Linked DNA regions of Homo sapiens: regions 2, 3, 4, 5, 6 and 7 are each linked to region 1. The links come from fine-mapping of genetic effects on gene expression. A gene starts in region 1. Each other region holds a variant in brackets. All regions are shown on one strand. Distances are between the middles of the regions.

Region 1 (4,067 bases):
CCGGCCCTCTTTGTGTTCTAAAAAGGAAAAAATATGAGCCAATATTTAAAATCAGGCTTTACATTTTTTATTTTTAAGTAAAAGTTCTCAGCTATTCGTGGAAAAAAAAAAAAAAAAAAAAAGCTGCCTACACTGTATGGCTGAATGGGAATTCCTGCATGGATACTCGGTGGAAATGGCCAATATCCACCCAGCCTTAGCAGGTTCCTCTGCAGTCACCTGGGCCCAACCAAGCACTCTTGTGCATTACCTGTTTAGTCCATGTGGATAAAGTGGATTTTGTGATCCCAGTTTTAGGGAAAAACGTTTTTCTTACTGTTAAGCAATTCAATTACAAACGGAAAAGGAGTAACTCCTTAAAAAGTGAGTGGAAGCATTGCTATCATTAATCAAGAATGAACTATAATTAATGAAGGATAGAATCTAGTACAAACTTGGGGCCAAGGCTAAGGAGATCCTTTACAGGGCCAAGTTGAAGGACGGGCAGAGGAGGTGGCAGTGACCGTCAAACCCTCATCATGAAATGGAAAAAATATCAACCTCTCGGCCAATAAAACTTTTTAAAAGTAAATTCATAGTTTGGTATATTGTATTTTAAAATAAAGGAGTTTGCCATTTCTAAGAAATCAGTTTCCCAAAACTACCATTTTAAGGGCCCGAAAAAAATTCCTTTAAGAAAAAGCAGGTATCTACACAGTCTGAGTTTTCCTCCCTGCTAGAACTGAAATCTGTTACGAAAGCCTCCAGCAGGGGGGCCTGCCTGGAATTGCCTAAGCTCCTAGCAGGTAATTTACACTGATCTTTAAAAACTACTAAGCCCTCCTCCTCCCCTCTATAAAACAAACCGGCCTTTCAGAACAGCTCTGGAAGGGGGGCAGAATGCCAGACGAAGAGACAACTTCCAGACCACGTCTCTCACCTCCCACCCATCAAATTCAGCCCACAAAAAGCTGTGGCCGCATTCTCATCTCAAGGCACCACGGCTTTCTTTGAACACCATATATCTTCCCAATTGGCCTCTTGCCCCATTATGTGTAAAAAACCGACTCTCTTTTCTGCAGAAAGAAATAACAAGGCAAAGGGTGTACAGGGCAACGTTTATATGCATCTACAGCATGCCAGGTGCCTACAGAACCTACCTCGGCCTAGGCGGTCCGTGCCCTAGCCGGGATCTGCAGGCGCCCTCATCCACGCTGGGAGACGGGAAGAGGAGAGGGAGGCGTGACAGGCGAGGGTGCCTGTGCTGCGCAGAAAGCGCTGCCAGGAGAAAAGAAGCAGTGAGCAAGGGCTTCTTCCATTTCAAAAACCTAATAACCAAAACTTGGAGGAATCTGCCTGAGATACTTAAAAAAAAGAGGAAAGAGAAACCTAGGAGGGGGTAAAATGCTTTTAAGACGAATCACTTGTTTTCGTAATAGACCCTGCGCGCGAGTTTCCTAGACTGCCGCGAGAAGAAGGAAAGCGAGGGAGCAGGAAAGGAGAGGCTTCGGAGCCCCTAAACTAACGTCTCTTTTCTTATTAGTAATAGTTTGCTCCAGGGTGAGTCATTTATTATCCTAGCGTTGGCCTCTTTATCAGTAAAGTAGGGGTGAAAATGCATCTTAGCCGGGCTGGCGTTAGGATTCAATGAAGTTAAATGAAGTTAAGCCCCTGGCACCCATGGGATGGCAGCGAGTCTGTTCGTTCCCTGCCTATCCACGCCCGCAGCCAACCCCTCCGACATCTAAGCTACACGGACCAGGGGCAAGAGGCCAGAAAGTGACTTTCAGGGGACACGGGGCACCGGCGTCCCAGCCCCACTGAGCGGACGGAAAATGAAGGTGGAAGGAAGAGGCGCCGCTCCATTCCGGTCCCGGGCGCACCCCGGTTCTGCTTCCTCCTCCGCGGGGGAGCCCAGCCCGCCCGGGGCCACGGGGCACTGGCTGAGAGCCGGCTCCCTCCCACCCATCCTTCTCAGCCTTCCCCCACCGCCGGGCGGCCGAGCAGGGGAACACGAGGGAGAGCCGGTTACCTGGAGTGGGCGTCTGACCCCGGAGTCTCAGGAGGATGCCCAGCCGCTCCTGCTCCACCAAGCTCCCGCCCCGCGCCGCGCTCTAGGCGCTCCGGAGCTGCGCCTGCAGCCCTCACACCAGCGTGGCCCGCCCCGGGGCCGCCCCCAGAGGCCCCGCCTTTCTAGGCCCCGCCCACCACGTCCCCGCCTCGCCCACCTGCGCGAGCTCGGGGCTGGGGACTTGCTGCGGACTCGCGGTTCCCGCCTACAGGCGAGGGCGCCCTCTGGGCACTGACGTGGTCTGGGAGTAGCGCTGCGATCCTAGTGCTTCCTCGCTCCTCTTCCTCACTGTGCTCTGATTCTTAAGAGGTGTGTGAGCGGCGTCTTTTTAAACATTTTATGCCTCCCTTCCTCGAAAGCAGGAAACTCGAGAAATGCTGCCTTTTCTGATTTTAAACATGAAAATATGTTACAGAACAACAATAAAATTAAATTCCAAGGTTCTCGATATGTAAAGTTTAGAGATAACCATGTAGGTGTTTTTTTCTCTCCCCTAACGAACCTTGCTTCCTAAATTTAGCATTTAAGAACTCATTACATTCATGTGTATTTCCACATAAAAATTAAGATCAAATTAAACTGTGGAACAATCCACAGTGCTGTGGAAAGTAGGAAAAAACCTTCCCCGCCCTTATAGCACAGATCTTTGTGTCAGTTATAAAAGTTGACACAGTTCTCTTTGTAACAAGGGGAATATTGTGTCTGTGTCTTCTTTCGTTGGATTTTTAGCTCCTAGAAAACAGAACGAGGTCTTATTTGTTTCCATGTTGTTTAAAAAAAATTCTGGCCGGGCGCGGTGGCTCACGCCTGTAATCCCAGCACTTTGGGAGGCCGAGGCGGGCGGATCACCAGGTCAGGAGATCGAGACCATCCTGGCTAACATGGTGAAACCGCGTCTCTACTAAATATACAAAAAATTAGCCAGGCGTGGTGGCGGGCGCCTGTAGTCCCAGCTACTCGGGAGGCTGAGTCAGGAGAATGGCGTGAACCCGGGAGGCGGAGCTTGCAGTGAGCCGAGATCGTGTCACTGCACTCCAGCCTGGGCAACAGAGCGAGACTCCATCTCAAAAAAAAAAAAAAAAAAAAAAAAATCCAACTCAGAGGCCATTAGACTGTGATATGTTTGACACTTGCCTGATTTGTCAACAAAAATTAACATAAGATGATGGTATAGAGGAAGAAAGACTTCCCCTCTACTCTCTGAGGCTTGGATAACTAAGTCTATGAAATAAATTGACTGCAGGTAGATTAACAAGAGAAAAAGTACACAGATTTCGTGTAGGGGGTATCACAGAAAAGAAAAACTAATATTCCCTCTGCCTCCCCCAACAAAAACTGAGATTTTAGGAGCTTGTGTATCCTCTTCATTGGGGAGGGACAATTTAGGGGAGAGGAAATGATTTTGGGAAAAACTCCTGAACTCCTTCAATGGCTAGCTTTGTTTAATATCTCATGAAATTTTTCATGAGCAATTCAAGCATAATTGTTAAGAGCAAGTAGATTAGGTAAATGTAAATGGAATAAAAGTTTATAAACTTTTAAAAATAATTTGTTTTATAAAATTTGTCTACTTAAAAATAGTTTTAAAAATCTTTTTTGGTGACTTGAAATTTCGAACATATTAAATTAAGTAATAGATATTCATTAAATGTCTGAGTCATTTGTAAGTTAAAATACTGACATGTTAATTGCTAAACATAAGTTTAAAGTATAGCCGGGGCTGGGCACAGTGGCTCATGCCTGTAATTCCAGCACTTTGGGAGGCCGAGGTGGGTGGATCACCTGAAGTCAGGAGTTTGAGTCCAGCCTGGCCAACATACCAAAACCCCGTCTCTACTAAAAATACAAAAATTAGCCAGCTGCGGTGGCGTGTGCCTGCAGTCCCAGCTACTCAGGAGGCTGAGGCATGAGAATCGCTTGAACCCGGGAGGTGGAGGTTGCAGTGAGCTGAGATCGTGCCACTGCACTCTGGCCTGCGTGACAAAGCAAGGCTCCATCTCAAAAATAAATAAATTAA
Region 2 (4,067 bases), 160 kb before region 1:
GTTAGAGACCAGCCTGGGCAACATAGCAGGACTCCATCTCTACAAAAAAAAATTTTTTTAATTAGCCAAGTATGGTGGTATGTGCCTGCAGTCCCAGCTACATGGGAGGCTGAGGTGGGAGGATCCATTGAGCCCTGGAGTTCAAGGTTGCAGTGAGCTAATTGATCTTACCACTACACTCCAGCCTGGGCAACGGAGTGAGACCCTGTCTCAAGAAAAAAAAAAGTCTGCATTTCTAACAAGTTCCCAGTGATGCTGATGCTGCTGGTCTCAGGACCCAGCTTTGAGAACCACTGCCTAAAAGTCAAGGGCCAAATAAAAATAATCAGATTTGTTTTGGAGGTCTATGCTCTTGCTTTGGATTCAGTGGGTAAGCCATCTGCCTGAAGAATCCTCCCTCTAGGATCTTTTGATCCTACCTTTTTGATGGTAACATCACATGTATGAGGAATTGAAATATATTTGCACATTTGAAAATGTGTACAGAGAAAAAATTCTACTCTGTTGACCCCACAGGTGATTGGAATGCCTTAGAATCCCACCATCTCGGCCACCAGCAACATTTTTTCAACTACCTTTTAGCCTCTGAAGTAGCCCCTGAATTCTAGGAGAAACTGTATGATAAACATGATCACTGCAGATCTATGGTTAGAAGCCAGACATGCCCAGGTTCTTCCTGTTGACAGATGCGCCTGACTTTCCACATGACTTGTTCAGAAAGCTTCAGGCTAGGTCTAACCAAAGGCAAACGTACACTTGGTCAGGGAACAAAACCTATCTGTCCACTGTTTTGCTTTATGCCCACTAGTTTCTCAACATTCTCCCTCTCCCCTCACACACACACATACCACCACTCAAACTGCACCCCAACTCTAATTGACTTCAGAAGGTGATTTCCTCAGCCTGCCTTATCTTTTCTTTAAAACCTTAGCTGTATACAGGAAAGAAAGTATTATACTTCTGAAGGATAAATAGTATACCTAGAACCATTCTTATTTTGAAAATTGGGAAGCATCCGTGTGTTGCCTTTGGAGTGACAGTATTAAAGGGTTTGCAAATTGCTGTTTTCCTTGGGAGGATTACTCAAAATTAAAAAGCAGAAAAGCTGAGTTTGGAAGATTGCCCTTTCTTGATTCCATTCCAGCTTTGCTAGGTTTTTTTTAGCACGCTGTCAACACTTACTTGACTGTCCTTGCTCACTGGAATTCCCAAATATTCCCTATAAAAATATCAGACCACCAGCAAGAAGGGTGGGGAGTGAGAAAGGAAGGTTGCTATCTCACCTGGGGAGATAGCCGCCTGTCATTTTCAACAAAACACCTGACCTTCATCATGGATCCTCTTATGTGCAAACAGATAAATTAGCTTGTGAAATTATATTACTAAGAGGACAACTGCACTTAAAAAGGATCATAGAAGCTCTTTAAATAGAATAGTGTTTGTTTGTCAATAATAAAATATTTATGGGAGGCCGGGCACAGTGGCTCACGCCTGTAATCCCAGCACTTTGGGAGGCCGAGGCAGGAGGATCGCTTGAGTCCAGGAGTTTGAGACCAGCCTGGGGCAACATGGCAAAACCCTACCCCTACCAAAAATATGAAAATTAGCCGGGCATGGTGGCATGCAGCTGTAGTCCCAGCTACTTGGGTGGCTGAGGCAGGAGAATCGCTTGAACCTGAGAGGCAGAGGTTGCAGTGAGCCAAGATAGTGCCACTGCACTTCAGCCTGGGCGACAGAGCAAGACTCTGTCTCAAAAAAAAAAAAAAAAATTATGGGAGGGGTATAAAAGTTGAGGTGTAATGAGTATTCATCAAGAATTAATAGGAAGCAAATTTGAAATTTGCTCACAGAGAAATCACACCAGTATATCAAAAACAGCTAATACTACACAAAAAACATAAATGCCATAAAAACACTTTTATTTATTATTTTATAAGGTTACATTTGTTTTCTGGGCATACTCAGTTGAGGTAAATGGTAGGATTCATTTGTATCACCTGGACACAGCTCAGCTGTATGGAGTGGTAAGTGTCCTGTTATTTCTGTAACAACAACAATGAGGAGAGCTGACGCTGACATTTTTTCTTTCAGTGTATTGGGAAATCCTCATTCTCGTGAAAACTGAAAATTAACTGTGTTCATGGGTGAATAAAATTAGGCTGCTTGAGAGGGATTTTC[C/T]TCTGTGTGTATTTTATTATTTGGGGTACCAAAACAATTTTGTAATATGTCCCCTGAATAAGACAAATTGAAAAGGCAGGGAAAAATGAGGACAGAAGAGACCACTGGAGGTGTTTGGAGTTTTTAATCTTTGCTTTGTGTTTTTATATCATGGGCAATCACTTGTATTTCAAAACCAATGGTAAGGGTTACAGCTTAATCTTATCATCTGTTCAGGTATGGATTTGTTCAGTATTAGCAATGGGACCACATTAAACAGTTTCAAATGCCTCAAATCTGTTGTGCTTTCACAGTGGTGACAGTGGGGAAATGTTGACTGCTTCCTATTTTTTCCTTGCACTCAGAACTAGCTGCCTTTACAATGATCCAGAAATGTCTTCTATGGAGAAGGAGTAAGAATTCACCATCAATAACAGCTATGTGGTTACTTGTAGTGTTGTATGGCTGGGCTCTGAAAGAAAACACACTGAGGACTGGGTAAACCCTGTTTAGATGTTCAGCTTTCCTGTGCTCCATTCCTGAAATTAGAAACCTGAAGCTATATTTGCCAGCTTCACACCATTTCATTCACGATCACCCCTTAAATTTCTAAAGGACAACCTGTGGACATGGCATTCTATTTTTCCAATCCAAAAATGGGAAGAAAATGAATATTAGGACCAGATGTAAGAACATTTGGGCAAGAGGAATGCAATTCTGCTTTCTGAATGACATCATCTCTATTTTAATTAGTGGAAGTTGGAACTTCCATTTAATACTTTGGTGGATGGAGAGAAAATGTGCTTGTTTTGCAACATCCAGGAGGAATTCGAGCCTGTATGAGACTGTAGGAATGATCTATTTAGAGGATTGCCATCCTGTGAGAAGCAGAAATTGGACATGTAGTGAGTTCTTAACCACGTTCCAGACTGTAAAAAGCTTCACACGCAGTGTCTGATTTTAATCCTCAGAATAAGTTTATGAGGTACATTTCACAGATGAGGAAAGAGAGGCATGGAGAGACGATCTGACCAGCCCACTGTTTTACAGCTGTAAAAATGGCCCAGAGCTGGAATTTGGACCTTGGCAGTATAGCTCCAGGGCCAATGGTTTTTAAATCAGAAAGAGGTGGTCTTAATGCTAGATGGGTGTACCACTTCCAATTTAATGAAAGACAAAACTATTCACCTAAGAGAACAGAGCGAATTAGTGGCCAAGTCAGTTTCAGGGAATAAACTGTGGTCACCAGCAAGCTTTCAGAGAGAACTTGGTCATCCGACAAGGAGCTTCCAATTTGGTTTGAGTTGTGGAGAATTTAACATTGCCCTTGTTCCTAGCAATCAGGAAGCAGAGGGGAAAGATCAGTTTTAAATGTGTCTCATCTCTATTGTCACCTTTTGCTGTCTTTGGACCTCCTTTGCGTTGAGGTCCAAAAGGAAGTTGGAAAATTATAGTGAAATATCTTCACATTTGCCATGTTGACCTTGCAACTTAAAGGAAGTTTAGGCACAAAAACTCCAGAGACAGTCCCAACTGAAAAAGTTCACAAAGAGCAAAGACTGGGCCAATTCTGGATGCATGCCTATGAGTTAGCCCTGCTCTGCAAGGAAAATTTATTTTTTCTAAATAAAATTTTAAAAAAAGAACAAAGACCATAGAGAGACCTTTGAAATCACACAGCTATTTTTCCAAAGGTCACTGTTGTCCCACCTCTTTTAGATGAAGATAACAATTGCTTCAAGGAAATTGGCACATGAAATTCTGCAAAGCAATAATACCTCAATTCCCCAGTGCACGATAATTCTTTTTGCAACTATTTCTTCCCTCAGCAAAACAGCACCCCCCTTGAGCAGTTAACAGAGCCCACAGTTAACAAGCAGCAGAGAGGGCACATGTGGAAGCCCAGCCAA
Region 3 (4,067 bases), 100 kb before region 1:
AAAAGTAGACCTCTGTCTCACACAATACAAAATGGTATAAATTACATAAAGAATGAAGGCTCAGAGCTGGGCACAGTGACTCAAGCCTGCAATCCCAGCACTTTGGGAGGCCGAGGCGGGAGGATTACTTGAGGCTAGGAGTTCAAGACCAGTCCAGGCTGCATAGTGAGACCCCCATCTCTACAAAAAAATTTAAATGTAGCCAAGCATCGTGACATGTGCCTGTAGTCCCACCTACTTTCTGAGACAGGAGGATTGCTTGAGCCCAGGAGTTTGAGGCTGCAGTGAGCTATGTTTGGGCCACTGCACTGTAGCCTGGGCAACAGAGCTAGATCCTATCTCTATTTTAAAAAAGAAAAGAAAAGAATGAAGTCTCAAATGCAAACTAAAACAAAAAAATCATGTAAGAAAACCTAGAGTATGTACAAACTAGAGATGAGGCATACCTTCTTAACAGAGACTGGAATCCCACAAACTTAAGAGAAAAAAAAAACAGAAATATTTGAACATAAACAGATACAAATCCCTTATCTGAAAAATGTGCCAGGTACAAAATCAACTGACAAAAAAAGTTCAAAAAAATGTGTCATGCCAAAGCCAAGGGTCAGTGTCTGTAACATGCAACAAGCTCTTGCAAATAGACAAGAATGAGACAAATAACTCAAAAACCAGCATGAGCTGCCTGCCTGTCAGTTGCCCCATTTTTTTCATCTTTCTATCTCTAAGAGAGGCTGGCTCATCTTGAAGCAGAATGTTCAGAGTCTTGAAATACTACTATTTCATAATTCTGAAGCTGTTAAAACCAAGTAAATGATGACTTTGCTGGTGACTAATACAAAAATGGTTATCTGTTCCTGCCAGTGAGAGAATCAAGTATTTTTCACTTCTCTCTGGCACATTTAAACTGAAAGAAGAATGCCCTTATTCATTGGGTTTCTTTCCTTCTCTTTCTCTCTTTTAGAGTTCACTTAAAAGTTTCCATGATGAGCTTAGTTTCAGATTTGTTTTCTTTTTTTGCAGTAACAGCACTTAATGTTGTTTTGCTTTGCAGAGTAATTCTTCCATCGGAATTTCAGATTTTATTTTATTTTATTTCATTTTATTTTTGAGACAGAGTCTCACTCTGTCCCCTAGGCTGGAGTGCAGTGGCATGATCTCAGCTCACTGCAACCTTCACCTCCCAGGTTCAAGTGATTCTCCTGCCTTAGCCTCCTGGGTAACTGGAATTACAGGCACGTGCCACCAGGTCCAGCTATGAATTTCAGATTTTAAAGTGGGGTATTTTGTTATTTGCAGTATGTCAACTTTCCCCCTCTTCATTTACTCAGTAAGCTTAAGCTAGGTTTGAAAAGAAAATAATAATGACCCAGAGTTGGCAACATAGGGGGAAAATAGAACCTCATCATGTGCCTAAGCCTGTATGCTCACTCACTTGTTACACCCACAAAAGAACTTTCTATTTTAATTCAAATTCTTCCTTCCTCTTCTAAAATATCAATCCAGGCTAAAAACAATGTATGTTTGTACTGAAATCTAAATATATGTTCTACAGAAATTCTAGATCACA[T/C]CTGTGGTGCCAAGGGGCAGAGAGGGACAAATAAAAGTTTTCTTCAAAAACAATATGACAGAAGGGAGTAGCTGGCTTCAGTCTGACTTTCCTACCCTCTCTAAGCCTCAGTTTCCTCATCTGTAAAATGGGAGGGAAATTAGTACCTACCCCATACGGTTGTTTTGGAGATTAAATCAGATAATGCATATGATTTAGCCAAAGAGCGTTGGATTAGTAAGATCTCAATAAATGTTGATTATTATTAGTTTGTTCTTATGTAGGGCCACCAGCACTTGATTAGAAGAGTGGCTGTTTCCATCTCTCTTCCTGGAGGTCATTTTGCCTCTGCAATGTGGAGGGTAAGCCAGCAGTGGTTTTCAAACTGTTCTCAGAGCCCTGGGATTCCACAGAGAGGCCTGTGGGCTGTAGAGGGATCAGCGTGAGGCTGAGATGGTGGGTGAGACTCTGAGACTCCCACTATAGCTTTGATTTTTTTCTATTTTATATAAAAGGAACCTGCCTACATTTCACTTCAAAAACCATTAATCTTTTAATTCTGCAAGGCTAAGGCAATTCTGTTATTCTGTGGGCATTCCTCCTTTTTAAAATGACTTTTCCTAGCTTTTTAGTAATCTTTTTTTTCTTCATTATCCATCCTTAACCACCTGATCCCTCCTGAGAGAAACAAAGCATTCAAGAAGCCACATCTGTGTTAGTATGAATTACTTTGATGTATTATGCCTTTGGGGAGGTGCTTGCATTTTAAAAGAGTCCAAACAAGAAGAGGATAAATAGGATAAAGAAAGATTGCTTTTCTGTTGACAGAAATCCTGGCACTACGGGGAAGACTTTTGAGGGTGGGGTGAGAGGGAAGTCTTTTGTAAAACTGCTAAAATGGCAACTCTAACCATGCCTTAATGAAATAATAACAGCGACTAGCACTGGTAAAGAGATTCTGACTTATACAACAATTTAATCTCCATCTTCTTGGCTGATTTAACACGAGCCTCCTGTAAATGAGGTGCTACTGTTTTCCCATGTCCATTTCCAAGACAAGGACATAGAGGCCCTGCATGGCTCAGTGACTCACCTCAGTTGGCAGAGTTAGGCCCTGACTCGAGTCTCGGGCACTCTCCCCAGGACCACACTGCTACCTCCACCCATTTGGGAAGCCAAGCCTGCTGATACCCAAGGCACCGACTTTTGAACACTCCCTTTGCAGAAATGGCACAAGCTGGGCCACTCATTTTTCTGATGCTTCCTCCTTGGAAAGAAAGGAATGGCTGTAGCAGAACTGTCAGCTCTCAATGAGCTCTTTGTGCAAGTAAATTCCAGAGTTTTTATGAACGATGATTACAGCAAGGGCTGCTTTCCCCCCCCAGTAGTTATGGTCAAAAGATTGCTGTTTCAGCCATGCCTGGCATTCCTCCAGAAAACTCCTGGATATATGCACTATGAGTTGCAGACTTGTGGATTATTGAACCTAGGAGACTGAAGAAACCAAGAAGCTCTCGATTTTAATGAGTAAATGTTTCTTTCCATGTCAAAATCCCTGGTGACACAATTTTTTAAAGTTCCAGAAAGTAAACATAAATGTCATTAATCACTGGAGGAAAGGTTATCTTTTTCTATCATATTTCCACAGAGCAAAGTTGCCTGGTTTTTACTTATACATGTCTATCAAGACTAACTGGCATGAGGACATGTGTGTAATAAGCTCTCAACATATATATTTGTTAATGAATGAGTGAATTAGTATATCCTTTAATTTGGAGGCCAAGCAATCATGATAGCAAAAGCAACAGAAACAACATGATAACTTCCTCTGGGATAGCCCTTCACTATGGTGGACTCTGAAAATTCTAGCACACAGCACTGAAGTTAATTGCTTACTGCACTCAGGGAGATCACTACCTTGACCATCTTCGCCATTGAGTAGGGAAAAATAAGTTGGAATATTGATGATATTTGAGGGTGTGGATGAAAGCAAGCTTTTCATTGCAGGAGCTTGAGATATAGTAGTTTAGGACTGGTAGACACAGCAAGGCAAGAATTTTGAGACAGAATTTTGAAGAGTCTTGGAGAGAAAATCCATTTGTTACAATTCAGTGAAGGGTTCCACAGTATGATGTTCATTCAAATAAATTTTTCCAAAGATATTTGCAACTTTTATTATTCTGAGCAAGAGGTTCCTGGAGTGGAAAAATCATGGTGATGAAGACAGAGGAGGAATAAGGTCATATTCATGAAGCCAAATAGTACAATCAGTTTCACCAACACCAGGGTTTGCAAACCATAGCCCAAAGGCCCAATCTGGTCCATGCCCAGTTTTTATAGTTTTATTGGAGCAGTCCTATGTTCATTCCTTCAAATGTTGTCTGTGACTGCTTCCATGCTACAAACACAGAGTTAAATGGTTATGAAAGAGACCATATGGCCACAGAGCCTAAAATAGTTACTATCAGGCCCTTTACAGGAAAAGTTTGCCAACCCCTGATATGGATGGTAAGCTGTGTGG
Region 4 (4,067 bases), 240 kb before region 1:
AGAAAGGGGTAATTTGGTTACATGTTAGGGTTTTTCAGAAAAACAGAACAAATAGGAGATATCTGTATTTAGATCTCCATCTTGCTATCTAGCTAGCTACTGAGAGAATTTTAAGGAATTGGCTCATGCGATTATGGGGGCTGGCAAGTCTGAAGTCTATAGGGCAAGCTGGCAGCCTGGAAACTCAAGGAAGAGTCAGCATTGCAGTCGTGAATGTGAGTTCTGCAGGGCTGCAGGCTGGAAATGCAGGCAGGTTTCTGGGCTGCAGTCTTCAGGAGAATTCCTTCTTCTTCAGGAAACTTCAGACTTTGCTATTAAGACCTTTATCTGATTGGATGAAGGCCCCCTCACATTATGGAAGGTAATTTGCTTTACTCAAAGTCTGCCTATTTCAATGTTAATCACATCTAAAAAAATACTTTTACAACAACATCTAAACTGGTGTCTGACCAAATAACTGGGCACCATAGCCTAGCCAAGTCGAAACATAAACATTAACTATCACAGGTTATAGTAAAAAATCTGATCTATATGTTAAACAAGGATTAAGTCATTAAAATTTTAAAAGTCACTATCTGAATTATATGAAAATGTGATAATCGATATATAGATATATTGGCTTTCCATAGATATGAGCAAGGAAATAATGTGCAAGGGAATTTTAAAAAATCATTTCCAAGAGGATTGAGAAAAGGGATGATATTCAACTGATGAATCTTTTGGAGATACAGGCAGCCATGGGGGATGGAGGGAGGGGGTGGGGGTGGGGTGGGGAAGGAGAAGAGAGGAAATCGTTGTGTCATGTACTTTTGAAACAGTATTGAGACATCACCTGACCCTCATACTTGTGGAGCTGTATCTTGTTTCCTAGCTCTGTGAGGTGAGGTATTCAGTATTCCCTGAAATAAAGATGACCTTCGAACACAGTGTATTTGGTTCTATGGTGATCTGTCTGCATCTTTTCTTTTTAAATTAGTAATTTTCACCTTTTTTCATGTCTGATAACATTGTAGAAAAGAATTTATCTTTCTGCTTATGAGTGACACCGTGAGATCTTTTTGTTTTTCGTGAAGTCAGACTTTTTCTGTCTATGACTTATGGTTGGGGAGTTTAGTACATTGGGTCTTTTATCCACGTGAATGTTGAAAATGAGAAATAGATTTTAAAAATCAGTTGACTCTTTCTCTCAGTGTTGGATAATGGGAACCCTGAGAAACATCAGGCAGACCAAGCTGTACCCCAGTTCTGAACATTTGCCGTTTCTCAGAGGTGAGTTGATGCTCTCTAAACTCCAGTGCGCCCTTGCCTATTCACCATTTTTGGGCTTTGCCCTGTACCAAACCTGGAAGAACAAACTTAGCACTGACTCTGTGTTCATTTATTTTTGTAATTATATTTGATCTGTTGGTGTGGTATGTTGGTGAGTTGGTGGTGATAAGTATCATTAAAAGTCCTTTGCCGGGCACGGTGGCTCACGCCTGTAATCTCAGCACTTCGGGAGGCCAAAGCGGGTGGATCACCTGAGGTCACGAGTTTGAGACCAGCCTAGCCAACACGGCAAAACCCCGTCTGTACTAAAAATACAAAAATTAGCCAGGCATGGTGGCACACGCCTGTAATCCCAGCTACTCGGGAGGCTGAGGCAAGAGAATCGCTTGAACCCAGGAGGCGGAGGTTGCAGTGAGCCGAGATCACACCACTTCATTCCAGCCTGGGTGAAAGACCAAAACTTTGTCAAAAAAAAAAAAAAATCCTTTACATTTGCAGTTTAATTCAGGACTTAGTCTCTTTCCTTCATTTCCTTCTTCTCTCTTGCTTTCTCTCTCTGTCATGCCCTCCACCCACTTCTACATTTCTGGCCAGCCCTACCCAGAGCAGACTTTCCATAGTAAGTGCTTGCAGACTGACAAATAGATTATTTTCTTTGGTCCACCCAAATGACACTTGAGATAGACAGGGCAAGTGTTCCTCTCCCCATTTCCCAGCCAGATGAGCAAACTGACTTAACACATGAACTGCTTCATGTCATCCAGAAATGAGAAAGTGGTGAGGTTAGGACCTAAATTTAAGTCTTCTCTGTCTAGCCCAGTGGTTGTCAATGAAACACAGCTGCCCAAACAAGCATTTCTCTTGAGCTGCTTCTATAGGTTGATGTTTTCATTCCTGTTCTCCCGTTATCTCGTTGAAAGGCACATAAAGTGTAACAGGAGATATTTTGAGACAGACTGAGCCAGAACCCATGCCTGACTCCTCAGACTGTCTTGTGACCTACTGGGCTTTTTTGATACCTGAGTAAATATTTGCTCCCA[C/T]GGTGGATCTGTGAGTGCTTGTGCCATGTCAGTGGGCTGCTCCCCATCTGTGGTGTGTGGGACCAACTCGAGTGGTTGGAGGCCAGAGGGAAGGGAGAGCATCAAAGCCCCTCAATGTTCATTTACGTTTTCCAAATATTTATAGGTGTGGTATTTTGTGGTGAGGGATTTTACAGCCAGAGAGAGCCACAAGTGCCAAGATGAGGTGGTGCAACTCTGTTTCCCCGTGGGAGGAACGCCCACAAAGGAGTCCATTTGTGTTGTATTGGCTTCTAGTTTGAGGAAAAACCCAAGGTGCTTCTCTGGCTGGAAACTTGAAACATCACAACTAGTGGCATTGCTTGCTTTAGGGGGAAAAAAATCTCTATGAAAATTGCTGGTATTTGAGGAAGACAAGAAGCCATGACTTTCGAAAGCAGGGTATATTCGCATATCAGGGGCACAGCAAGAAAGTGATGACACATTCAAATTAGGAAAATTTGAGAGATTTAATAAAGAGAGTATTTACGAAGATGGAGGCAAAGTGTGAGGAACTCACAAGGAATAGTGCGTAGCCCAAGAACAGGAGCAGTACGGCTGTTATTCTTCCTAGACCCCAGGAGTGGGGAGACAGAGTGATGACCAGAACCCAGAAAGACTATTTCAGGTAGAAAAGGCCACCCTGAAAGGCATAGTGACCTAGTGTGAGGGACACGGCCAGCGGGAGGCACTCCCGCCTCTTCCCCCGCATCTCCCACCAGGGATCCTCACTGGTCAAAACCTAGTGGAGGCTGGGCGTGGCGCCTCATGCCTGTAATCCCAGCATTTTGGGAGGCCAAGGCGGGCAGATCACTTGAGGTCAGGAGTTTGAGACCATCCTGGCCAACATGGAGAAACCCCGTCTCTACTAAAAATACAAAAATTAGCTGGGTGTGGTGGCGGGCACCTGTAGTCCCAGCTACTCGGGAGACTGAGGCATGAGAATGACTTGAACCTGGGTGGGGGAGGTTGCAGTGAGCCGAGATCATGCCATTGCACTCCAGCCTGGATAACAAACAAACAAACAAACAAAAAACCTAGTGGAAGTCGGAGGGTGAGGGAGGCTTGGGGCAGAAAGCAAAATGGAGAAAGTAGGAGAGTAGAGCTGACGAAGCAAACAGAAGCTGTTCAGTGCAGCTAGCCGAATTGGAGAGTGGTGGACCTCAGCCTCTGAAAACTGTCCTGAGATGTTCCTGTGCACGATTAGTTAACTGTTTCTCCAGTACATTGGAGGATCAGTTTCTGAGATCTATGTAAGAGTTCTTCAGGAACAAAGGCTATCAAAAAGTCAGTGCAGGATTGGGTAACCCTTTGTAGAAGTCCAAGCTGCCGGTTCTGAACCAGCAGGGAATACTTGCTGACGTCGGAGACATTTTGGTTGTCACAACTGGGGTGGGTACTGCTGTCATCTAATGGGCAGAGGCCAGGGATGCAGTTACATATCCTACAGTGCACAGGAGTGCCCCCCGCCACACAGGGTTATCCAGCCCCAAATGTCAACACTGCCAGTGTCGAGAACTCTGCTCCATCTCTCTGCCTTATTTTATTGCTACTACTTTTTTTTTTCCATCTGAAAAGATCTTCTATTTACTTATTTATTTAATTGATTCTGTTGCATCTGTCTCCACCTATGAGAGTATAACCCCCAAGAAAGCAGGAGTTTGGTTTGTCTTGTTCATCACGGTACCCCTGTTGCTTAGAATAGCACCTGCCACATGTTAGACACCCCATAAATAGGCC
Region 5 (4,067 bases), 36 kb after region 1:
AGGAGGCTGAGGCAGGAGAATCACTTGAACCTGAGAGGCGGAGGTTGCAGTGAGCCAAGATCGTGCCATTGCACTCCAGCCTGGGCAACAAGAGTGAAACTCTGTCTGAAAAAATAAATTAAAATACTATTCCTTACTAGCTTTGGGTGACGTTTTTCATGTGAACTTTTTGTGATGGTTCAATGTCTTTTTTTTTTTTTTTTTTTTTTTAGACGGAGTTTCGTTCTGTCATCCAGGCTGGAGTGCAGTGGCACGATCTCGGCTCACTGCAAGCTCCACCTCCTGGGTTCACGCCATTCTCCTGCCTCAGTCTCCCAAGTAGCTGGGACTACAGGCGCGTGATACCACGCCTGGCTAATTTTTTGTATTTTTAGTAGAAACGGGGTTTCACTGTGTTAGCCAGGATGGTCTCAATCTCCTGACATCATGATCCACCTGCCTTGGCCTCCCAAAGTGCTGGGATTACAGGCGTGAGCCACCACTCCCAGCCTCGATGTCCTTTTTTATTGAAAGTTCTAGACCAAGTACATTTGTGTTGATTTTAGTTACAAGATGGCTAATTTCATTTTTACTCTTTTCTGAGGTGTGGTGAATGAATCACCTTTGTCTTAACACCAATATGCCACTTTTGACCTTTCCATTTTGAATAGGGCACAAAAAGAGATTTAGTTATCTATCATCCAGTTTTATATTACTCAGCGTGCTCTGTGAAACAGAAAGACTTTAAGGCCCAGGTCTTGTCTATCTAGTTTTTTTCTTTTTTTGAGATGAAAAAAGAGTTTATTTATTACAAACTTTTTGGGCTACTCCAAGATCCAGCCTTACCTGAAGTCCGACACCAGTCCACATTAATTGCTGTGCTATTATCCATTTATTGCCTCTCAGTTCCAAATTCATTCATTACCTACTCTGTGAAAATGGACCTAGGTCTTTTAAATATTGTTCCTTTGCCTGTTGGCACAATGTTAAGCTGTGTCAGTAGTGGAAGCTGGAGAGGCACTACAGGTAGAAACAACTTTTTTTCCCCTAGTTCAAATGTGCACCCGAGGCAGGCTCCTGCTGCACAGACTGCTTCCCCAGGACCCAGGCCTTGATTCCAGGTTCTGCCTAGCTTTTGAAAAATGCAAGGACTTTTAAAGTGTTGAAATACTAGATACTTTTTATAAGATTAAACAAAATATTACAGTCTGATTTTTGCCTGTCTATAAGGATGGATATTCATTTCACTCTTCAATTCTTCCCCCACTCCTGCTGGCTTCTTAGCAACATCACAGTTCAGAAAATGTTTACACAGTCAATTGCTACACCTTTGATTCCAAGGCAAACCATTCTTTGTAATCTCTAGCATCTAGTGCTGAATGCAAGGTAGAAAGTAATATGTCAACAAATAGTTCTGATGTGGTAAATTTTACTGTGAACCAACTCTGTCAGGTTCAAGGAAAAGCAAGCCTTTGATCTAACAAATTATTTCAGATTGTATTTAGAAACACCAACAACAAAAAGGATACTATCTCAATAAATTCCTTGCCATTCTACAGTGGAAATTTTAATGATGGCATTAAATCAATTCACTTCTATGGATTTCATCAAACTATGTCATAGCTTATATTATTCCTAGAAGAGTTGTTGAATCCCCATCTCATGGAAGCTTGAGAAAAAAAGCGTAACATCATCTGTTCCTTTCTCATTGCAGATCTGCAGGAAACATGCCATTTTGCAGTACAAATTAAGTGATTCTTTTGTTCATTAAAAGCTTGCCAAAACTGGTAACTGTGATGACTGACCTCTGTTTTAGTCTGTTTTGTGCTGTTATAACAGAATCCATGAGACTGGATAATTTATAATAAACAGAAATTTATTGGCTTACAGTTTTGAAGACTAGGAAGTTCAAGGTCATGGGGCCAGCATCTTGCAAGGGCCTTTTTGCTGCATCATCCCATGGGGGAAAGGCAAAGGGAGGGTGCAAGAGAGCAGGAGAATGAGCTCACAGTGTCAGCCTTTTTATAATTGGCATTAATTCATTCATGACGTTGGAATTCTCATGACCAAAACACCTCCAATTAGGCCCCACTTCCCAACAGCATTGCATCATTAGGGATTAAGTTTCCAACACATGAACTTTGGGGGACACATTTAAACCACGGCAACCTCCAAGGAGGAAAACATGATGCCTAATGGCAAGGGTGATGGCAATGGTGGTGGTGATCATGGACGACTAAGTTAGAAAAGTATAGATATTTCTCAGTTTACAATGGGGTTATGTCCTGCTAAATCCATCATAAATTGAAAATACCTTAAGTCAAAAATACATTTAATATGCCTAACCTGCTGAGGATCATAGTTTAGCCTAG[G/C]TTAACTTAAATGTGCTCAGAATACTTATTACATTAGTCTACCATTGGGCAAAATCATTGAACACAAAGGTTATTTTATAATAGTGTTGAATATCTCATGTAATTTATTGAATATTGTACTAAAAGTGAAAAAAATAATGGTTAGGCCAGGCATAGTGACTCATGCCTATGATCCCAGCAATCTGGGAGGCTGAGGCAGGCAGACTGCTTGAGCCCAGGAGTTTGAGACCAGCCTGGGCAACATGGAGAAACCTAGTCTCTACAAAAAATACAAAAATTAGCTGGGCATGGTGGCATGCACCTGTAGTTCCAGCTACTCTGGAGGCTGAGGTGGGAGGATCACTTGAGCCTAGGAGGTCAAGGCTGCAGTGAGTGCAGTGAGCCATAATCACACCACTGCACTCAAGCTTGGGTGATAGAGCAAAACCCTGTCTCAAAAAAACCAAAACAAAATGAAAACAAAAAACACCAGAATGGTTGTATAGGTACTCAAAGTATGGTTTCTACTGAATGCATATCATTGTTCCACCATAATAAAGCCAAAAAATTATAAATAAAATTAACATAAATCAAGAACTATCTATCTGCATAGTGAATGGATGAAATATACCGTAGATTAAGATGCTACTGCTGAGTGCCGTGGTTCACACCTGTAATCCTGGCACTTTGGGAGGCCGAGGCGGGTGGATCTCTTGAGCTCAGGAGTTCGAGACCATCTTGGGCAACATGGCTGATATGGTGTGGCTGTGTTCCCACTCATATTTCATCTTGAATTTTAATTCCCATAATCTCCATGTGTCGTGAGAGGGACCCGGTGGGAGGTATTAATAATTGAATCATGGGGGTGGTTTCTCCCATGCTGTTCTCATGACAGTGAGTGAGTTCTCATGAAATCTGATGGTTTTATAAGCTTCTGCTGTTTCCCCTTCTTGCACTCATTCTCTCTCCTGCTGCCCTGTGAAGAGGTGTCATCCACCATGATTGTAAGTTTCCTGAGGCCTCCCCAGCCATGCAGAACTGTGGGTCAATTAAACCTCTTTTCTTTATAAATTACCCAGTCCTGGATATTTCTTCATAGCAGCCTAAGAATGAACTAACATAACGGTAAAACCCTGGCTCTACAAAAAACACAAAAATTAGTCGGGTGTGGTGGCTTGCATGTGTAGTCCCAGCTACTTGGGAGGCTGAGGAAGGAGAATTGTTTGAGCCCAGGAGGTGGAGGCTGCAGACAGCTGTGATTGAGCCATTGCACTTCACCCTGGATGACAAAGTGAGACCATTTCCAAAAAAAAAAAAAAAAAAAAAAACAACCTACAAACAAATTGAGTTGCCATCAATAAGACATTAAATTGTGTGGGTTGTTTTTTGTTGTGGTTTTTTTTTTTTTTTTTTTTTTGAGACAGGGCCTTGCTCTCTCATCCAGGCTGGAGGGCAATGGCTCCATCTCGGCTCACTCAGCCTCCCTCCTGGGTTCAAGCAATTATCGTGCCTCAGCCTCCCTAGTAGCTGGGACTACAGGCACACACCACCATGGTCAGCTAATTTTTGTATTTTTTTTAAATAGAGATGGGGTTTTACAATGTTGGCCAGGCTGGTCTTAAACTCCTGACCTCGTGTGATCTGCCCGACTTGGCCTCCGAAAATGCTAGGATTACAGGTGTGAGCCACTGTGCCCAGCCAACATTTACTTATTTGTAAAAATCCAAATGCTGGCAT
Region 6 (4,067 bases), 180 kb before region 1:
GAAGAAATGCTACCAGATGATTGACAGACGGTATGTGGGCTCTATTATTTAATCACTATTTTGATTTTGGTAAACTGAAGACTAAACAACCACATGGTATACTGTTATTATCTTCATTATACACAAGAAGAAACCAAGTCTCAATAAGATCAAATAAATTGTCTAAGTTGCTATTAAGCATGTATTCTTTTCAAAATAGTAAAGGTAATACTGACGAGAATAAAAGCATCATTAAACAAAAATACACCATGTTGGTTATAGATTCATGCACTCTAAGAACACAACCATTCTATTTTACATTTACTTCTATGAGAAAATGACGTTTGAATCATACAAGTTTCAAATTACATCTCAAAAAGCATTCTTGTAATTAATCATGGCCATTCTATATCTTCCTACCAGGTAATAGTAACTTGCATAGAACTCCCTAAAATTATACACACACACACACACACACACACACACACACACACATTTTTGTTGTTGTCGTTGTTGTTGGAGTCTCACTCTGTTGCCTAGGCTGGAGTGCAGTGGCATGATCTTGGATCACGGCAACCTCCGCCTCCTGGGTTCAAGCGATTCTCCTGTCTAACCCACTGAGTAGCCAGGACTTACAGGCGGGCACCACCACGCCCAGCTAATTTTTTTATTTTTATTTTTATTTTTATTTTTAGTAGAGATGGGGTTTCAACATGTTGGCCAGGCCAGTCTCAAACTCCTGACCTCAGGTGATCTGCCTGCCTTGGCCTCCCAAAGTGCTGGGATTATAGGCATGAGCTACCATGCCAGACTTAAATTATATATATTCTTATTTAGGAATATGTTTTATGTTTTAATTCCCACTGAAAATGGGTTAAGAGTAATGTATTTTTTTTCTTTTTTCAAAATAGGTTGAGGAAGAATTTGAAATCATTCATCATTGTTCATCCATCTTGGTTCATCAGAACAATCCTTGCTGTGACACGACCTTTTATAAGGTACAGTTAATGTTGTCATAAAATAAAAGTACTACTAGTAGTTTTAAAAAATATGTACTCATTGTCCTAAAAACAAGAATTCATAAACTAAGAGTACCCAGGGAAATATATTTGTCTCTGTCTTTCCTAGAAAGGTGCTTTGGACTATTCATCAAGAATCCCGAATTAAGAGAGAAAATGCTGTCATGATGAATATTTCCCCCAGATCATTATAAAACAGGACCTCTAAATTGCTTGCTATAAACACGGAAGATGAAGTGGTGGGATTTTCATGCCACATTAGAAAGGAGAATAGATAATACATTTAAAGTGATATGCTATTATGTAGAGAATAGAAAGGTAGAGTAATATGACAATGGAAAGTAAAGATGAATCAAGGGCAGAAACAGAAGCCATATCATGTCTCAATTGTGCCATTTCTTCTGAATAGACCTACACAACGTTTATATAACTACCAAAGTTATATAGAGTCTGGGCAGCCATTTTGAGAGCTGTGTTTTGATCACCCCTGAGGAGTCTTGGTTTCAATTCAGTGAATATTTATTTGTCACTTATTTTATGTTAGGTTTTGCATAACCTTACATCTTAGGGATGCAAAGTAAAATAAGTTATGTTCATAATATAGTAAGACTTCAAATAGTTAAATGAAAGGGATAGTATTTACTTTCTAGATAGCTTTAAAAACAATAAAATTTGCCCACCATCAGGGTACAGATTAGATTAATTGAAATTTTCCCATCTCAAAGTTATTAATGAATTTCTTTTAAAAATTCTGATAAC[T/G]TTGCTTCTGGGGAAAAAGATAAACTTTAAAATCTTTTTTTTGTGTGTACATAGATTTTACTGTAGCTTCCAAATTCTACCTTTCTTGTTAAGTATTTAGTTATATTTATTTATTATTCTTATTCCCCACTTCCAATTGCTAATGCTGAAAAATATACCTGAAAATCAAGAATTGTTAAAATGGTAAACTGAAGGCTAAACAATCACATGATATACTGTTATTATCTTCATTATACACAAGAAGAAACCACTGAAAAAACGAAGTTATCAGAATTTTTAGACGAAATTAATTAATAATTTTAAGATGGGAAAATTTCAATTTATCTTCAATTGAGTAGCAGGATTCACCCTAGTTTCCCTCTGGCAAAGATTAGCTGTTTACCATACTGTGTTAAATTGCTTTTAAAAATATTATGAGCAGCCAAGCGGGGTGGCTCACACCTGTAATCCCAGCAGTTTGGGAGGCCAAGGCGGGCAGATCACTTGAGGTCAGGAGTTTGAGACCAGCCTGGCCAACATGGTGAAACCCCATCTCTACTAAAAACACAAAAAATTAGCCAGGCATGGTGGTGGTGTGCCTATAGTCCCAGCTACTAGGGAGGCTGAGGCAGGAGAATCGCTTGAACCTGGGAGGAGGTTGCAGTGAGGCAAGATCACACCACTGCACTCCAGCCTGGGCAACAGAGTGAGACTGTGCCTCCAAAAAACAAACAAAAATATTAGACCTATTTAAGGTATACAAAGAGCCACTTATTTTAATATTTTCAGGAAATGTTGTAACTAGGGAGTAGGAATCAATGTATGCTGATAAGCTTTCAAAAAGTTTAATGGGTAGAAAGGTAAACATTAGCATAGTTACTGATTCATCGATGTTTGCTTAATAATTCAGCACTTATAAAACAAATGTTTTTTCTTGATTAAGTAATGTTAAAAGATAAACTTTAGACAAATCAATCAGTTTATTAGAGCAAAAAATGATTTATGAATCCAGCATGACTTAGAACCAGGAGAGGTTCAGAGAGCTCCTCCCAGCAAAGTGGGCAGACAGTATTTGTCCAGAGAAAAGCAAGGTGATGTATAGAAATAGCTTGATTGGGTACAGCTCAGCAGTTATCTTATTTGGGTACAGTGTGATGAAGCATTTGCCTTATATGGTCATGGTCTGATCATTTGGCAACCTGTGATTGCTGAAGCTCAGCTGCTTTGATTGGCTGAGACTCAGCTAGTCTTTGCAAAAATATACTCATAAGTTAGGTTGGAATTTTGTTTACATACTATGTTAGGTTGCAGTTAGCTACCTAGGAACTCAAACTACAGAGAAAGCCTCAAGCCAAATGTAGTTTAACAATAAGAAAACATTTGTTACTGTAAGGCTATTAAACATTATTATAATTCAACACTACTTATTGAAGGGAGCTTCAAGATAATAACAACAACAGTAATAATAAAATTATAGCAACAGTGTTGTGGTAAATTATGACTAATAATGGCTTAATTTATTGAGTGCTTATTTGCATTATCTCATTTAACCTAATGACAGTCCTCTGAAGTAGATACTTTTTTGTTTGTTTTTTGTTTTGAGAGACGGTCGCCTTCAGTCACCCAGGCTGGAGTGCAGTGGCACGATCATGGCTTACTGCAGCCTCAGACTCCTGGGATCAAGCAATCCTCCCACCTCAGCCTCCTGAGTAGCTGGGACTATAGGTGTATGCCACCACAATCAGCTAAATTTTTTTATTTTTTTGTAGATATGGGGTCTCATGTTGTCCAAGCTGGTCTCAAACTCCTAGGCTCAAGCAATCTGCCTGCTTTGGCCCAAAGTGCTGAGATTACAGGCATGAGCCACCATGCCCAGCCTGAAGCAGATACTGTTTACTATTTCCATTATATAGGAAAAACTGCTGAGGTTCAGGGAGGTCAAATAAATTGTCTAAAGCAGGAACCAGCAAACATTGTTTATAAAGATTCAACTAGTAAATAGTTTAGGCTTCACTGGCCCTATGATTTCAGTTACAGCTACTCAATTCTGCCATTATAGAGCAAAAGCAGCCGTAGGAAACATGCAAACAAGTAAGTGGCTGTGTTCTGATGAAACTTTTTTTTTTTTTTTGAGACAACCTCACTCTGTTGCCCCAGGCTGGAGTGCTGTGGTGCGATCTCGGCTCACTGCAACCTCTGCCTTCCCATGCTCAAGTGATTCTCCCACCTAAGCCTCCCAAGTAGCTGGGACCACAGATATGTACCACCACGCCTGGCTAAGTTTTTGTATTTTTGGCAGAGACAGGATTTGCCATGTTTCCCCGGCTGGTC
Region 7 (4,067 bases), 200 kb before region 1:
ATTACAGGTGTGAGCCACCACGCCTGGCCTGGAAGATAATTTTTATGGTCAAGTTTCACTATGTGGTGAGACATTCTGAGGAGCACTTTACCCAAAGGGCAGGGCACCTTCACGTGTCTAAATCTGTGTTGTTCAATAGTGACTCATTCATCTCCACCATGTGCTGAGCCCTGTGCTAAGCACTGGGTGTGCTTGTCCCCCAGGAGATTCATGTGTGTGTGGAGAGGGTGGCAGTGGGGAGGAGTGGGGGCAGACACATTTCAAACAGGAAATCATAGGAACATGGCAGCATCCACGTGAGGTAAGCACAGGGTGCTATGGGACATGACCCGACTCTGTGGGGAGGAGGTGAGGTCCCAGGTCCCCACTCTGTGGGATGGAGGTGAGGTCCCAGGACCTTACTCTGTGGGGTGGAGGTGAGGTCCCAGATCCCGATTCTGTGGGATGGAGGCGAGGTTCCAGGATGGAGATGTCCACACTGAGTAGTACAGGACAGCAAGATTGGCAAGGCTAAGTGGGGAGTGGGGAATGAGAAAGGAGGCTTGAGTCTGGGCTTAGGGGCCAGGTCAAGAGGGCCTTGTGAGCCCTTCTCTGAAGCCAAATTCTTTCCCTGAAGTGGTGAATTGAAAGGATTTAAACACAAGAAGGTGGTGTCAAGGTTAAGATGAAGAAGGATATTAGTTATAATTTGGAGGAGGTAGGGATGACGATCGTAAACAGAAAGGTGGTGATGTTTCTGCATGAAAAAAATGAACTTGAACTAAGGCTTTTGTAGTGAGAATGGAGTGGAGAGGATGACATAAATTTATAGGATTGGATGGCCAACTGGATGAGGAAGAAATGGTGGGAAAGAAAAGAAAGTAAGAGTGAATGCCAGTTTGGGAGCTTGAGTGCCCAGGTGATATGTAGAGACATTCACTAGGATGAGGAATGTATTAGTTAGCTATTGCTGTATAATAAATAATCTCGGCCAGGTGCAATGGCTCATGCCTGTAATCCCAGCACTTTGGGAGGCCGAAGTGGGAGGATCACTTGAGCCTGGGAGTTGGAGACCAGCCTGACCAACATGGTGAAACCCCATCTCTCCTAAAAATTAGCTCGGCATGGTGGTGCACGTCTGTAATCCCAGCTACTCGGGAGGCTGAGGCAGGAGAATCACTTGAACGCAGGAGATGGAGACTGGAGTGAGCCGAGATCGCTCCATTGCGCTCCAGCCTGGGCAATACAGCAAGACCCTGTCTCAAAAAATAAATGAATAAAATAAATAATATCAAAGTTTAGCAGCTTAAAACAACAAACATTGATTATTTCCCAGTGTTTGTAATAGGAATTCAAGAGTGTATTAGCTAGATGGTTCTGGCTTAAGGTATCTTGTTAAGTTGCCATCAAGACATTAGCCAGGCTGCAGGATCTGCCTCCAAGATGGCTCGTTCACATGGCTGTTGGCAGAAGGCTTCAGTTCCTTCCTGGATTTTCACAGGAAGCCTCAGTTCCTTGCCACATGGACTCTCCACAGGGCTGCTTGACTGTCCTTACAACAGGGTAGCTGGTTTCTCCCAGACTGAGAGACCCAAGAGAGAACAAAGCACACAGTGCTTTTTAGGACCT[A/C]GCCTTAGAAGTCACCTACCATCCATTCCACCTTATTCTGTTCTTTAGAAGCAAATCATCAGTCCACACTTAAGGGACGGGAAATTAGGCTCCACCTTTTGAAAAGAGTGTCAAAGAATTCATGGACACTTTTCAAAGTCGTCACAGAGAAGGTAGGATGTAGCGGATCTGCGTAGAGGAAGATGTGGGATTAGGTTTTGAACATGTTCAGTTTGAGATCCCTTTGAGCCATCCTGGTTGTGAACTGTAAACTCACTTCCTAAATAAGTATATGCCCCTCTCCAATGTGAGATTATGCCATCTAATTTAATCTTCTCCACAACAAACAAATCTATTCATAGATCTTAAGGTTATAGGAAAAATATTAAAAGAAGCTAGCAAATAGCCTGCAGGCAAGAGGTAGAATTCTCCATGCATCCATCATTCACAGCCAAGGAGTTAATTATTCTCTGAAAAGCAAAGAGGTTGAAATGATAAAAATGTAGGCTTTCCTTCTATTCCTGCTCAGCGTTCCTCAAATTTTCATGTTTAAGCCTCACTGTAAAAAGAAAAAAAAATTGACATGCAAAACCATGTACACTCTATTCAGGGAACAATTCAAGAAAATGTTTGAGGATCATTGAGCTACAAGTGATTTTTTTGCTCCCTGCAGAATTTTAGAATCTGACCCTGGGTAAGGAGGCTGCGTCGTGTCCCCCACCTCTGAGAACCTGAGAATGTTTAGCTGTGGTTTCTGCAGTTTTGCACATTCCCTAAAGAAGGTGTCTGGGCGAGTGCTCGGCGCTTATCTTCCTACTGTGTGCAGTCAGTTTCCAGCTCTCACCTCCCTCCTTCATCTCTCTTCAGCTGGCTGGCTTCTAAGATGCTTCTCCCTGCCTGGCCACAGTGCTTACCTGTTCTAGGATGAGAGAGGCCCAGCTGGGTTAGCGAACTGTTGCTAAAGAGCGTTATTTCATGGGCTTGACCCCAGCTTCCTATTGTAGCATTTCCTGTCTTGGGATTAGCTTGATTAGGCAAAGTGTGAAGCTCAGTGCTGCTTCAGTCTCACCTCCTACTTTGAGTAATTTGATAAGTACTCTGTGGTTCACAGGGTGCCATGTACTGCTGGCTTAAATGGAGCAGCCTACTTTATCAGACAAGAACCCTCAAATGGCAGTCCTCCAGCCCATAGGCTAATTGATATTCTTAACGAGGGAAGGCAAGCACCTCATGAAAGGTTTTGTTTGTGTTTTCTTTTTTCTTTTTATCTCTGTTTCTAGAGACAGCAACCTTATCAGTCCAGCAGATCTTAATAGACTAGAAAGAAGCCAGGAGAGTATTAAGGAACTCTTAACACAAGAGATATTTCTCTTTATGTAATCATTTTCCCAAAATATATCAGCATAACCGTCAGTATTTTTCTAAAGAACAATGGACCCCATGTCATGACCTGCTACTTTACTTTTTATGGAGGTATATATTTCAGTGGCCAATCTTGTAAAAGTGGTTATTCCTGAAAAGGGGTGCCACCTGCTGCTGGATATCCGTGTCTGTCAGGAAACATTACCATCTAGAAATGCTACTGGTATGTGTGTGCCAGCTCTTGGCTCACTGCTCATTTCCTGTTAAAAAGAACCTAATCTCAGGCAAAGCTAATCCTACAACAACAGTCAAATCCCTCCAGATTCAGATACGTTGAAAAAATACAAAATGCAGAATGGGCTTAATTTTGTACCTGTTCTAAAGGCAAGAAGGTGCATTTATGTCCAAAAGTTCTGCATTTGTTGTCCTTCATTCTCTGTCACATACTGCAATTAGCCTTCCATATGAAGAAATGTAAGTATCAGAAACACACAATCTACGAATATACGTGGGCTTCATTCTCAAATTGGAGACTTCCATTTCTATCACCGTTCTTTCTCCATTTGGTGGTATTCAGGATCATTAGAGAAGGTGCAAAGATTTAGCATAAATAGCATCAAGTCACCTAAGAGCATGTTTCTTTTTATAACTTCCTGGGCTGAGTTGAATGCTTAGCTAATTCAGTTCATCTTATTTCCTAAAATCTGAACTTAAGGCTATTTATTTTCCTCTAGGAACTTCTTTAGCTGCTTTCACAAGTTTGGATGTGCAGGGCTTTATTGTTTGGTTACTTACACGTGTGTTTTTTAGTCTCCAAACTGTGATTGGAGACTTTTTGTGATTGATAACTAGAGGTATGGCCCCGAAGTCAGAGAATATAGTACATGTGATGTTGACTTTTGGTATTTTATGAGACATCACGTATGGTAAGTTTTGGTGAGTTCAAAAAAAAAAAACTGTGTTTTTATTGACTGCAGATCTCTCCATTAGATCAAGCTATATTACTGCATTGTTCAGATCTGCCATATTCTTATATATTTCTTTTCAAATTAATTTATAAATTCTTGAGAGGTATACTCAGATTTTACCCCATGAAATTTATTTTGCCTTATAATGTA

Evidence for each region. PIP is the estimated chance that this variant, and not a neighbour inherited with it, causes the effect.
Region 2: its variant is the best candidate, but not a certain one, in a credible set for the expression of GCNT1 in thyroid (GTEx, PIP 0.50).
Region 3: its variant is the best candidate, but not a certain one, in a credible set for the expression of GCNT1 in whole blood (TOPMed, PIP 0.64).
Region 4: its variant is the best candidate, but not a certain one, in a credible set for the expression of GCNT1 in whole blood (TOPMed, PIP 0.67).
Region 5: its variant is the best candidate, but not a certain one, in a credible set for the expression of GCNT1 in T cells (TOPMed, PIP 0.53).
Region 6: its variant is the best candidate, but not a certain one, in a credible set for the expression of GCNT1 in whole blood (TOPMed, PIP 0.62).
Region 7: its variant is the best candidate, but not a certain one, in a credible set for the expression of GCNT1 in whole blood (INTERVAL, PIP 0.65).

What each region holds. Positions count from the first base shown.
Region 1 is chr9:76,457,250-76,461,316 of GRCh38, reverse strand. GCNT1 (glucosaminyl (N-acetyl) transferase 1) reads right to left here and starts at 2,135. Exons shown (of 4, transcript NM_001490.5): 1 at 2,012-2,135; 2 at 1,140-1,257. RefSeq lists silencers at 751-820, 1,811-2,350 and an enhancer at 1,091-1,200.
Region 2 is chr9:76,617,843-76,621,909 of GRCh38, reverse strand. It overlaps PRUNE2 (prune homolog 2 with BCH domain), which reads left to right. Exons shown (of 19, transcript NM_015225.3): 18 at 2,523-2,570. All of the region lies in intron 5 of LOC105376095 (a long non-coding RNA gene), which reads right to left. Among named protein-coding and RNA genes, the nearest start is that of PCA3, 140 kb to the left of the region's middle. The variant C/T (reference allele first, on the strand shown) is at 2,179.
Region 3 is chr9:76,559,438-76,563,504 of GRCh38, reverse strand. It overlaps LOC105376093 (a long non-coding RNA gene), which reads right to left. Exons shown (of 3, transcript XR_007061584.1): 1 at 2,640-4,067. Among named protein-coding and RNA genes, the nearest start is that of GCNT1, 100 kb to the right of the region's middle. The variant T/C (reference allele first, on the strand shown) is at 1,568.
Region 4 is chr9:76,695,736-76,699,802 of GRCh38, reverse strand. The region is part of intron 9 of PRUNE2 (prune homolog 2 with BCH domain); the gene reads left to right. Among named protein-coding and RNA genes, the nearest start is that of PCA3, 67 kb to the left of the region's middle. The variant C/T (reference allele first, on the strand shown) is at 2,310.
Region 5 is chr9:76,421,281-76,425,347 of GRCh38, reverse strand. It overlaps a transcript of GCNT1 not described here. Among named protein-coding and RNA genes, the nearest start is that of RFK, 29 kb to the right of the region's middle. The variant G/C (reference allele first, on the strand shown) is at 2,352.
Region 6 is chr9:76,633,381-76,637,447 of GRCh38, reverse strand. It overlaps PRUNE2 (prune homolog 2 with BCH domain), which reads left to right. Exons shown (of 19, transcript NM_015225.3): 14 at 1-30; 15 at 891-977. The region is part of intron 6 of LOC105376095 (a long non-coding RNA gene); the gene reads right to left. Among named protein-coding and RNA genes, the nearest start is that of PCA3, 130 kb to the left of the region's middle. The variant T/G (reference allele first, on the strand shown) is at 1,758.
Region 7 is chr9:76,661,714-76,665,780 of GRCh38, reverse strand. The region is part of intron 9 of PRUNE2 (prune homolog 2 with BCH domain); the gene reads left to right. LOC105376095 (a long non-coding RNA gene) reads right to left here. Exons shown (of 12, transcript XR_007061586.1): 12 at 1,242-2,146. Among named protein-coding and RNA genes, the nearest start is that of PCA3, 100 kb to the left of the region's middle. The variant A/C (reference allele first, on the strand shown) is at 1,609.